Homo sapiens: one gene and its partners. The protein of the gene in region 1 purifies or fractionates together with the protein of each later gene. This does not show direct contact. Each region holds a gene or a part of one and is shown in the gene's direction. Other genes may lie near its edges. The genes, in order: OR14J1, BST1 and PRSS21.

Evidence for each region.
Region 2: the proteins of OR14J1 (region 1) and BST1 purify together in Homo sapiens (affinity purification with mass spectrometry; one large-scale study listed by BioGRID and IntAct). This does not show direct contact.
Region 3: the proteins of OR14J1 (region 1) and PRSS21 purify together in Homo sapiens (affinity purification with mass spectrometry; one large-scale study listed by BioGRID and IntAct). This does not show direct contact.

Annotation. Positions count from the first base shown.
Region 1 is NC_000006.12:29,304,599-29,308,242, forward strand, and holds part of OR14J1 (olfactory receptor 14J1), read left to right. Parts: intron 1-2,063; 5' UTR 2,064-2,091; coding exon 2,092-3,057; 3' UTR 3,058-3,644. UniProt on the Homo sapiens protein: Odorant receptor.
Region 2 is NC_000004.12:15,701,554-15,705,945, forward strand, and holds the start of BST1 (ADP-ribosyl cyclase/cyclic ADP-ribose hydrolase 2 precursor), read left to right. Parts: upstream 1-1,511; 5' UTR 1,512-1,591; coding exon 1,592-1,779; intron 1,780-3,961; coding exon 3,962-4,088; intron 4,089-4,392. UniProt on the Homo sapiens protein: Catalyzes both the synthesis of cyclic ADP-beta-D-ribose (cADPR) from NAD(+), and its hydrolysis to ADP-D-ribose (ADPR).
Region 3 is NC_000016.10:2,816,030-2,820,162, forward strand, and holds the start of PRSS21 (testisin isoform 1 preproprotein), read left to right. Parts: upstream 1-1,207; 5' UTR 1,208-1,239; coding exon 1,240-1,303; intron 1,304-1,400; coding exon 1,401-1,427; intron 1,428-1,771; coding exon 1,772-1,937; intron 1,938-2,647; coding exon 2,648-2,940; intron 2,941-4,133. UniProt on the Homo sapiens protein: Could regulate proteolytic events associated with testicular germ cell maturation.

The DNA of each region.
Region 1 (3,644 bases):
ATTAATCAATACAATTTGGAACTAGTGAAATTAAAATGATGAAATTTTCCATTTATTAATCAGATATAAAAATTATTATCTATGTCTTCAAAGAAAATAAAAATGAAAATAGGTTGGTGGGAGTTGTTGAGAGGAGAATATGGTGTGTGCATTCAAGTTTTTTCTTACGATTTTTCTCCTCCTTCCCTCTATGGAGAAACCTTAATGGGGAGGCTAAATGATAGAGGTTTTTCTTAGATTACATTAACAATGTGTATTAGAAGTGGTAAGTAACACGATGCTTTTGATTTTCAAGCCAGAGACAGTAAGTTTTAAAATATAAGTGAATTGCTTTCATCTATTCACATTTTATTTTAAATTCCAAAACTACCATCCAATATTTGGAGCAAGTTAAGCCAGGCATTAAGATTGGCAGCACTGGGGATTAAGCTATATCTTATGGAGGACCAGGAAAACTGTAGGAGCAAGAAAGCTAGAGAAACTTTGAAGAAAGTAACCCCTGTTTTCCTCTGATTCCTACTGCCATGAAGCAGGGGATGTGACCATCAGTGAGGGATTAAGGGCCCTTCCAGCCCTGAGACTGTTCCTTGTGGAAAAAAAAAATTTCCTAAAAATTAGTTTCAGTCAGTTCTCAAAATAAATTACAGCAAAATCAAAAAGATCTTGGTTTAAGTGATTTTTAACCTTTTCCTACAGCTTAGGGATTAATAAATGAAACAAACTACAATATCAGATGCAGTTACTTCAAAATCAGATGCATTAACTCATGTAACTTAGCCATTAAGTTTTTGTCTATATAGAACTGAAATCAATTATGTAGATATCCCGTTAAATAAGTATTTACTTAGAACCTATATGTTAGATGCCTTTGGTCAAGGGTGAAGAAATGGACAGAAATGATGAAGGAATAGTCTTTGTGCAGAAGAAACTCAGTGAAAATGATACTGATTGACCTTTCAACAAATGCACAGATTTAAAAAGAAAAAAAAGAGGCAAAAATTAGTTAGCAGAGTGATTCTGATACACAAAATAATTCTATGATGGTGTTGATTCTATAATAATAGCACATTTAAAATGAAATAGGAAAAGTTACATCATTTAATCCTCCTAACAATTGTTACATCTGGTATAGATTTTTTTTTTGTTTGGTTGGTTATTTTAAGAAATGGGCTCCCACTATCTAATATATTTCAAGTCCTAGAAAGAAATATATATATATATTTTTTCATTCAGGAACTCACAATGAGACACAGCACTAGAAAGATATATACTCTACTACCTAGCATTCTGCCTATCACATAGATTTTAGAAAATCTCTTTATTTCTTCAAATGGATTTGATTGAAAATGTCCAACCCCAAGTTGTCATAAGAATTTTGAGAATTAAACGTTCTTTGACGGTGAACCTTTGTCACTTAGTTGCAAGATCTCCAAAGCTCAGGATTCAATGCCTGATATCAGTGGCATCTGCATTTTACAATTTTGAGACATTTCATTTTTCAAAATTTCTATGAAAAGTTTATTACAATCAAATGTAATCTTTTTAAAGTGTTAAGAGCTTTTCAAAGGAAAAAATATGACTGTTCTTTGAGCTAACCTCTCTTCTAGATTAGCTTCTGAGCTGTTTCTAGATCTGCCTCTGAGCTGTTTCTAGATCCATTTGCAAGGTGGTATCAATAACTTCATGTTAGCTGGTTAGCAAAAGAAGCTATATAGTGCATCGTTGTAATACTAAGGCATCATATAGAAGATGTAATGAGATTGGTATGCTAGAATCATTTTCATTGACTTTATTGAAGGTAAAGACTTTATCATTTCCATCAATTTCTCCCTCTTTGACAATGCAAACTCTGCTCCAGAAAATGTTTATGACTTGTTGATCACATTCAGGGATTCTATTTCTGAATAATTGCTAAAACGTTTTTGAATTGAATATTAACTAATCGCAATGAAAATAAATTCATCTCATTTCAGTACCTCCTTGCTGAGGAATTGAGTTACTTGACACACAAATATATTAGATGTCATGCATTTTCTTCCTACTGTCTTTGGCTTCCTAAACAGAGTCACACTTGGTATCTTCAGAGAGACTATGGTCAATTTGACTTCAATGAGTGGATTCCTTCTTATGGGGTTTTCTGATGAGCGTAAGCTTCAGATTTTACATGCATTGGTATTTCTGGTGACATACCTGCTGGCCTTGACAGGCAACCTCCTCATTATCACCATCATTACCGTGGACCGTCGTCTCCATTCCCCCATGTATTACTTTTTAAAGCACCTCTCTCTTCTGGACCTCTGCTTCATCTCTGTCACAGTCCCCCAGTCCATTGCAAATTCACTTATGGGCAACGGTTACATTTCTCTTGTTCAGTGCATTCTTCAGGTTTTCTTCTTCATAGCTCTGGCCTCATCAGAAGTGGCCATTCTCACAGTGATGTCTTATGACAGGTACGCAGCAATCTGTCAACCACTTCATTATGAGACTATTATGGATCCCCGTGCCTGTAGGCATGCAGTGATAGCTGTGTGGATTGCTGGGGGCCTCTCTGGGCTCATGCATGCTGCCATTAACTTCTCCATACCTCTCTGTGGGAAGAGAGTCATTCACCAATTCTTCTGTGATGTTCCTCAGATGCTGAAACTAGCCTGTTCTTATGAATTCATTAATGAGATTGCACTGGCTGCATTCACAACGTCTGCAGCATTTATCTGTTTGATCTCCATTGTGCTCTCCTACATTCGCATCTTCTCTACAGTGCTGAGAATCCCATCAGCTGAGGGCCGGACCAAGGTCTTCTCCACCTGCCTACCACACCTATTTGTAGCCACCTTCTTTCTTTCAGCTGCAGGCTTTGAGTTTCTCAGACTGCCTTCTGATTCCTCATCGACTGTGGACCTTGTATTCTCCGTATTCTATACTGTGATACCTCCAACACTCAATCCAGTCATTTATAGCTTACGGAATGATTCCATGAAGGCAGCACTGAGGAAGATGCTGTCAAAGGAAGAGCTTCCTCAGAGAAAAATGTGCTTAAAAGCCATGTTTAAACTCTGAAGAACCATACAAATGAAAGGCATTGTTATTATGTTTCAGATTGGAAGAGAGGTGAATCTTATTTCTACCCAGAATGCTCTTCCAAGCTGTCTATTGTATATATTCCTCTCAAATATAATTCTTTAAAATTTAAGATGTTGTGCTCTAATAATATTAGCTTTCCTTCCTCCCTCCAATTCAAGTGTTATTTTAAGTCATCTTTGGAAAATTTTTCTGAAATGAAGGAGAAAGACAATTAGTTTGGAGTCTGGCCTGTATAATTTAAAACTTGTTATTAACAAATAAGGTTGGAGATAGATGAAGCTAACTGGGTTAATATTATGGTGCATATATGGTATTTCCAGTGGGCCTCCTAGTTTTCTATCCATATTAAGTATTCATATTAAGTTCTTTTACTATTATTACAGTGGTGATTTCAACAATTTATTCAGCCCCTAGTAAGTATCAAGTGCTTTATATATATACATTTTTTTGACTCAAGAAAACAACTCTTCTAGCTATAACATATTGTCCCCATTTTGCCAATAGGAACAATAAATTTAGGAAGGATTAGTTAATTTTCCTGAGATTTCTCAAATAAATGGTAG
Region 2 (4,392 bases), on another chromosome or scaffold:
AATTGAGGACTTGGGCCTCCACGTGGTATTCTATTAATACTGGCTCTTTTTTTTTTTTTTTTTGAGACGGAGTCTCACTCTGTTGCCCAGACTGGAGTGCAGTGGCCCGATCTCGGCTCACTGCGAGCTCTGCCTCCTGGGTTCACGCCGTTTTCCCGCCTCAGCCTCCCGAGTAGCTGGGACAACAGGCGCCCGCCACCGCGCCTGGCTAATCTTTTGTATTTTTAGTAGAGACGGGGTTTCACCGTGTTAGCAAGGATGGTCTCGATCTCTTGACCTCGTGATCCACCCGCCTCGGCCTCCCAAAGTGCTGGGATTACAGGTGTGAGCCACCGCGCCCGGCCAATCCTGGCTCTCTTAAACTGAACATCTCCAGGATTTTGCATCTATCAGGAAGGGATATTGTGACCTCTGACAAGTTACAGTCGGCGGTAGGTATCCATGGAGAATTGGTTCCAGGAACCTCCTGGATACCAAAATCCACAGATGCTCAAGGCCCTTATATTAAATGGTGTAGTATACAGTATTTGCACATCCTCTTCTATAATTCACGTCATCTCCAGATTCCTTGTAATATCAAGTACTATGTAATTGTTACATAAGTAGTTGTTACATTGGATTATTTAGGGAATGATGACAAGGAAAAAAAAGTCCGTACATGTTCCGTACAGATGCAAGCATTCTTTTTTTCCTCAAATGTTTCTCATCCGTGGTTAGCTGAATTTGGATGATGAATCCGCAAATCTGGAGGGCCGAACATGCTTAACTTCCCTGAGTTTATCCATTGCTAAAGCGAGAGAAATTACAAACTTAGCTAGGAAGGGTGTTGCGGAAAGTAATTAATATTATACTTGCAAAGTGCTTGGCACGTTGTTGTGGTTATTATTTCCTGAAAACAAACAAACACCACTTATTGGTTGGTGTGAAAGAGGGCATCTGTCAAAGTTGTCGTCCTTTGGAGCCAGAAAAGTATTTCTTCTGATGATGACTGACCTCTCCTCACCTCTCCTTCAACCTTGCGGCTTCTTTGGGGCTCCCTCCCCGTGGACAGCGGTCAAGATTAGCCTGGGCCACAGTGCACTGGTCCTGTCCTGGGTGATGTTCCAAGCTCACTCTTTTTTAATTTTATTTATTTATTAATTTTTTTTTTAGACAGAGTCTCACTCTGTCGCCCAGGGCTGGAGTGCAGTGGTGCAATCACTGCTCGCTGCAGCCTCGATCCCCTGGGGTCAAGCCTCCTCACATCTCACCTCGCAGGTAGCTGAGACTACAGATGCGCACCACCAGGACCAGCTAAGTTTTGTATTTTTTTGTAGAGAGGAGGTTTCTCACCTGTATGTTACTCAGGTTTGTCTCGAACTCCTATACTCAAGCGATCCGCCCGTCTAGGCCTCTCAAAGTGCTGGGATTACAGGCATGAGCCGCCGCGCCCCGCCCCACGCTCAGTCTTGAAATTGTCTGGAACGGGAAACGGCAAACAGCGAGATATCCGAGCGAGAGTCCCGCCCTGCATCAGTTTGCGGAACCGCCTTGGTAGAAGGAGAGAAGGGGAGTGGAGGAAGCACGGGACTGGAGGGACCAAAGTTCCCCGATGGCGGCCCAGGGGTGCGCGGCATCGCGGCTGCTCCAGCTGCTGCTGCAGCTTCTGCTTCTACTGTTGCTGCTGGCGGCGGGCGGGGCGCGCGCGCGGTGGCGCGGGGAGGGCACCAGCGCACACTTGCGGGACATCTTCCTGGGCCGCTGCGCCGAGTACCGCGCACTGCTGAGTCCCGAGCAGCGGTGAGGCAGTCGGCCGGGTGGAAGGGGAGCCGGAAAGAGGCAACGGTGGGGAGGGCCTGGGGAGGGGAAAACTGGCGCTAAAGTTCGGGGTGAGGGGGCAATGAGAGAGGCCTTGAGGGGAGAGGTGAGTGTGGAGACAGCGATGGTCCTGAACGATGGGGGCGAGTGAGGAGGGGGCTGTGAAGTGTGTCTGCAGGTGAGGGGTGCGCTGTGCGGGGTCTAGAGATGAGTGTGTGTGTGTGCGCGCACACACACACTGTAGAGGTGAGGGGTGTGTGCGTGTGTTCTAGAGGTGAGGGGGGTGTGTGTGTGCGCGCGCTCTAGAGGTGGGAGGTGTGTGTGTGCTCTAGAGGTGGATGTGTGTGTGTGTGCTCTAGAGGTGGGGGTGTGTGTGTGTGTGTGTGCTCTAGAGGTGAGGGGTGTGTGTGTGTGTTCTAAAGGTGAGATGTGTGTGTGTGTTCTAGAGGTAAGGGGTGTGTGTGTTCCAGAGGTGAGGTGTCTGTATGTGTGTTCTAGAGGTGAGGGGTGTGTGCATGTGTGTTCTAGAGGTGAAGGGGGTGTGTGTGCGTGCGCTCTAGAGGTGAGGGGTGTGTGTATTCTAGAGGTGAGGGGTGTGTGTGTTCTAGAAGTGAGGGGTGTGTGTGTTCTGGAGGTGAGATGTGTGTGTGTGTGTTCTAGAGGTGAGGGGTGCGTGCATGTGTTCTAGAGGTGTGTGTGTATCTGTGTTCTAGAGGTGAGGGGTGTGTGTGTGTAGTCTAGAGGTGACAGGTGTGTGTGTGTGGTCTATAGGTGAGGGATGTGTGTGTGGTCTAGAGGTGAGGGATGTGTGTGTGGTCTAGAGGTGAGGGGTGTGTGTGTTCTAGAGGTGAGGGGGTGTATGTGTATTCTAGAGCTGAGGAGAGTGTGTGTTCTAGAGATGAGGTGTGTATGTGTGTTCTAGAGGTGAGGGGTGTGTGTGTGTTCTGGAGTTGAGGGGTGTGTGTTCTAGAGGTGAGATGTGTGTGTTCTAGAGATGATGGGTGTGTGTGTTCTAGAAGTGAGAGGTGTGTGTGTTCTAGAGGTAAGGGATGTGTGTGTGTGTGTGTTCTAGAGGTGAGTTGTGTGTGTGTTCTAGAGGTGAGATGTGTGTGTGTTTGTTCTAGAGGTGAGGGGTGTGTGTGTGTAGTCTAGAGGTGACAGGTGTGTGTGTGTGGTCTATAGGTGAGGGATGTGTGTGTGGTCTAGAGGTGAGGGATGTGTGTGTGGTCTAGAGGTGAGAGGTGTGTGTGAGTGTGAAGGAGGGTGGAGAGGTATCCCTCTAGAAGTGAGGGTGGGGTAGAGGTGAACTGGGTAACAGCCCATTGCCACCCAGCAGATGTTTAGTCTGAATACTCAGAACCCAGAATGTGATCTCAGGTTGGAATTCCTTGAGTCCAGTCCTTCCAGAATTCAAATTTCAGATCCCCTAAATCTGGAGGATTTCTGAAGTTTGGGTCTTTCTTGCCAGTGCTGCATTTCTTACTGATTTTTGTTCCTTCTGTGGCCCCCCTTTTCTTATGTTTGTGATGTCTTTCTTGTGCTGATCATTTTTATTGTCGCACATTTCAGGCAAATAAGAAACAGCAGAGAACCACCTGTGTTACACACCACCCAGTATGAGAAACAAAGTTACAAATGCTATGGGAAATATTTTTTGAAAACTAGCATGGACCTCAAGAGGGGCTTGCACTGGAGGGTGCACCTGCTTTGCCAGAGGTGGAAGCCTTTTGCAGCATTGGGCCTCCCTCCTAACACTACACATCCTGCTGGCTGGCCTGGCCTCACCTGGTCCCCGAGCTCCACACTGGAACTGGACTATGAGACTGGCCCCACCGTTAGGTCTAAATGAAGAGGCACCTGCTGTATAGTTGACTGAATTTGTCACCTCCTGCTCGGTGCCATTTCTGCTTGTCTCCGTGAGCCTGGGGCAAGGCTGTATTCCTTAGCTCTGAGAAATCTGTGCAGTGCCTTCAGAGAGACAATTCCAGTGTCAGATTTCTGAATCTGTCACCTAAGCCATGACAATTCGTTGTCTTTTTTGTAAGCCTACTTCTGCAGTTACTATATGAAAAATCTCTTGTAAAGCTCTTAGACAAATGGGCATACTTCACAACACATTATGATGTGCATGTGTGTGTTCTTCCCAACTTGTACTTTTGCACAGGAACAAGAACTGCACAGCCATCTGGGAAGCCTTTAAAGTGGCGCTGGACAAGGATCCCTGCTCCGTGCTGCCCTCAGACTATGACCTTTTTATTAACTTGTCCAGGCACTCTATTCCCAGAGATAAGGTAACACCACAACCATCTTGGGTAAAACTGTGTTCTCTGTCTCTACAGAAATGGATGGTGCATGGGCCAGGTTGACATTAGCTGTCCCCTGCATCCTGCAATGTCACAGAAACATCAGGCAGCACACATAATGTGTGTGCTGAGCTCTCTGTGGGAAGCTAGCTTTGTTTCTGTATTAGTCCGTTGTCACATTGCTATAAAGAAATGCCTGAGACTGGGTAATTTACAAAGAAAAGAGGTTTAACTGGTTCACAGTTCCACAGGCTGTACAGGAAGAATGGCAACATCTACTTCTGGGAGGCCT
Region 3 (4,133 bases), on another chromosome or scaffold:
TGCTATGAACATGGGTATACAAATATCTCTTGAAGGCTGGGTGGGGTGGCTCACACCTTCACCCTGGCACTTTGGGAGGCCGCAGAGGGCAGATCACCTGAGGTCAGAAGTTCAAGACCAGCCTGGCCAACATGGCGAAACCCCATCTCTACTAAAAATACAAAAATTAGCTAAGCATGGTGGCAGGTGCCTCTAATCCCAGCTACTCTGGAGGCTGAGACAGGAGAATCACTTGAACCCAGGAGGCAGATGTTGCAGTGAGCCAAGATCGCACCACTGCACTCCAGCCTGAGCGATGGAGCAAGACTCCATCTCAAAAACAAACAAAACTAAATCCCCCCAAAAAACCAAAAACAAATATCTCTTGAAGACCTTCCTTTCAGTTCTTTTGGGTGTATGCTCAGAAGTGGAATTGCAGCTGGGCGCGGTGGCTCATGCCTGTAATCCCAGCACTTTGAGAGGCCGAGGTGGGCGGATTACCTGAGGTCAGGAGTTGGAGACCAGCCTGGTTAACATGGCGAAACCCCGTCTGTACTAAAAATACAAAAATGAGCCAGGTGTGCTGGCGCGCGCCTGTAACCCCAGCTACTTGGGAGGCTGAGGCAGGAGAATCGCTTGAACCCAGGAGGTGGAGGTTGCAGTGAGCTGGGATCACGCCAATGCACTCCAGCCTGGGCGACAAGAGCGAAACTCCATCTCAAAAAAAAAAAAAATTGTTCCAGAGAAGTGAAGAGAGCCCAGCGGGAGCCCGCAGTGGGGACAGCCTGGGCAGAGACTTGGGGAGATCCCCATTCTGGGTGGAACGGGCCGAGGACCACTGTTTTCCCAAGAAGGTCCCATGAAGGAGCAGCCATGCCTCTAGGCCCCACCCGGCCTTCAGGGGGTCCCCAGGCTTTAAGGGGACTCCTGGCTCAGGGCCAGGCCCTTGGTGCTGGAGGAGGTTGTAGGTGGAGGACGGGGTCACCAAGAGGGCAGCCGGGACCCCTGGGCTGCAGACAAGAAAGGGACTGTGGGGTCCACCGGGTCTGGGCCACATCAAGAAGTGTGGTTGAAGACCCGCCCCTAGGGGCTGAAAGCCAGGGCGCTGCCAGGCATGAGAGGCCCCAAACAGCCCTTGGGCCCAGGAGGGTGAAGCTGGGAGTAGAGGGCAGAGCTCCCACCCCGCCCCGCCCCCAGGGGGCGCCCCGGGCCCGGCGCGAGAGGAGGCAGAGGGGGCGTCAGGCCGCGGGAGAGGAGGCCATGGGCGCGCGCGGGGCGCTGCTGCTGGCGCTGCTGCTGGCTCGGGCTGGACTCAGGAAGCCGGGTGAGCTCGGGGCGCTGCTGGCGGGATGGGGAGGCGGGGGAGCGGTGGGGAGGACGGGAGGTGGAGGCCGCGGGGAGTCACTTCTTGTCTCCCGCAGAGTCGCAGGAGGCGGCGCCGTTATCAGGTAGGGCGCCCAGGACGCGCGATTCCTGCCAGGGCCGTTGGGCCGAGGTGGACGGGGGGCGGTGAGGGGGTAGAGGGGGGCCTTTACTGCTCTCTCGCCCCCGCCCCCGGGATCGAGAACTCTGTTGGCGTGGAAAGTAACTAACGGACGCTGGAGGGGGATGGGCGGGCCCTGCAGAGCACGTGGGAGGATCTCCAGTGTCACCTACTTCCTGCTGCACACACGCGAGGGGACCCTGGGTGGGCAAAAACGTGCTTTCCCGGACGGGGTTGAAGGGGAGAAAGGGAGAGGTCGGGCTTGGGGGGCTGCCTCCCGCGGCTCAGCAGTTCCTCTGACCATCCGAGGACCATGCGGCCGACGGGTCATCACGTCGCGCATCGTGGGTGGAGAGGACGCCGAACTCGGGCGTTGGCCGTGGCAGGGGAGCCTGCGCCTGTGGGATTCCCACGTATGCGGAGTGAGCCTGCTCAGCCACCGCTGGGCACTCACGGCGGCGCACTGCTTTGAAACGTGAGTGGGGGTGCGAACGGAGGGGTGCGGGGACGGGCAGGAACAGGGCTGGAGGGAGTGCCACCGAACTTTACCTCTGGTCTGATGCCAGACTTGGGCGTGAAAGTTGTGCGTGGATGCGGCCTGGTGTTCTCCTGAGCCCCAGGCTGTGCTGCAGCCGGTTACACCCACTCCAGTTCCCTTTGGGTCTCCTGGAGGGAACCCTGTTCAGGTTATTCCAGAATGTTCTTCCAGAACATTTCCACACACTTTTGGGTATTCTCTCCCTTTTTCTTTCAACCCAAAGTTCACCACTGACCATCCCACCCTCATCCCCCCTCCTGGTGGACGGTGCGGTACAGTGTGGGGCACTGAGCCAAGGCCAGCACCCCCGGGCCGCTGTGTGGACTCCATCCTGCCAATCCCACATTGGCGTGGTGCATCTCCCCATTCCTCCTTGGGCTGCATGGGGGTGCCCCTGGAGGCCTTGGCTCAATGCAAGGCTCCTTGGGACAGCTCTGGGAGGTGACAAGACCCCACCCTTCTGCTGCAGGAGCAGGTCCTAGGACTTTGGTTGTGGTCTGTCTGGGCTCCTTCATTTCTGCAGGGGACCCTGGGTGTTAGCAAGTAGCAGCAACACCACAGTTTCCCCTCCTGCACTGGACCCCAGTTGTGCTCAGGTAGCCAGCCCTCCATCCAGGGCCCCTGACTGCTCTCTTCTCTTCTGCCAGCTATAGTGACCTTAGTGATCCCTCCGGGTGGATGGTCCAGTTTGGCCAGCTGACTTCCATGCCATCCTTCTGGAGCCTGCAGGCCTACTACACCCGTTACTTCGTATCGAATATCTATCTGAGCCCTCGCTACCTGGGGAATTCACCCTATGACATTGCCTTGGTGAAGCTGTCTGCACCTGTCACCTACACTAAACACATCCAGCCCATCTGTCTCCAGGCCTCCACATTTGAGTTTGAGAACCGGACAGACTGCTGGGTGACTGGCTGGGGGTACATCAAAGAGGATGAGGGTGAGGCTGGGGACAGGCGGGTCAGGGAGGAACTGTCTTTGTTCACCTGTTCCCCTGCATAGGCACAATAGCCCCCTGCTTGGTCTGGGGGTGCAGGCTATGCCCCTCTTGCTTGCAGTCTCTCCTCACCTGCCAGGGCAGGGACCAAACACCCAGTTCTCTCCCTTCCAGGGGCTGTGGGGGCCAGAAGGAGAGTGTGAGAGGGAGGCCAGTTTGGCGCAGGCCTGTGGGTGGTGCGGTGGTGGAGGGGTTCTGGAGGGCTTGGCGACATAAACCTCATACTTGGATTTATTCCTGCATCTTTCCACCTCCCCCAGTGCTCACCAATGCCCCAGGCATCAGGCTCCTGGGCTGCCTCTCCATGCCTCCCACACCCACCCTAGCTCTGGCCGATTCTCCTGCAGCACTGAGCCCATTCCTCTCCCCAGAAACTTCCAAGCCATGCTCAACCGCAGCTCCCACGGAAACCCCTCTGGGGGTTCCTCTGGTGGGCCTGCCCTGGCACCTGCGTGTCCCCCAACACACATGCCCTGAAAGAAGTGGGCCCAGCATCCGGAGGAGCCCCGGCAGCCCCAGACTGGGCGTGTTCCCTGTATCAGGAATCCCTTCCCTCTGCTCCCCTGTCTGGCCCGTCCCTGCATCATCCCACAACAGTAGTAACAATAACAAACGTGGTTCCTTGAGCACACGCTGTGTGCCTGGCACTGTTCTAGACATGGGGGCCCAGCAGTGAGCCAGGCGCGGCCTCTCCTCCTGCTGGAGCTCACCTAGGAATGAAGTTGGTAACGTTCTTATACCCATCTTACAGATGAGAAAACTGAGAGGGTTATGGAAATTGCCAAGAACTAGTAAATGGAGAAGTCAGGGCCCCTTGCCTTAGAGAGGGTAAGGGATGTCCCCAAGTCACACCCCGGCAGTTGGGAGTGGGGAACTCAGCACTGGAGCCGCCTCCCTCTGGAGGAGGGATCCTTTGCCTTCCCTGAGAAGGACCCTTGCTGCAAACACGAGTGGATATGAGCCAGGGGCACGGCCAGGCTGCCTCTGCCACCCTCTCTCCCCAGCCCAGGGTAGACAGGTCACACCAACCCCAGGCTGTGCCTCAATTCACAGTGCCGGGGAGGCAGGGGACAGGCACTTCTGGAGCCCCCTGCCTGGTGTGCACCTTTGCTGTGCCCTGCGCGGGCTGGGAGGCC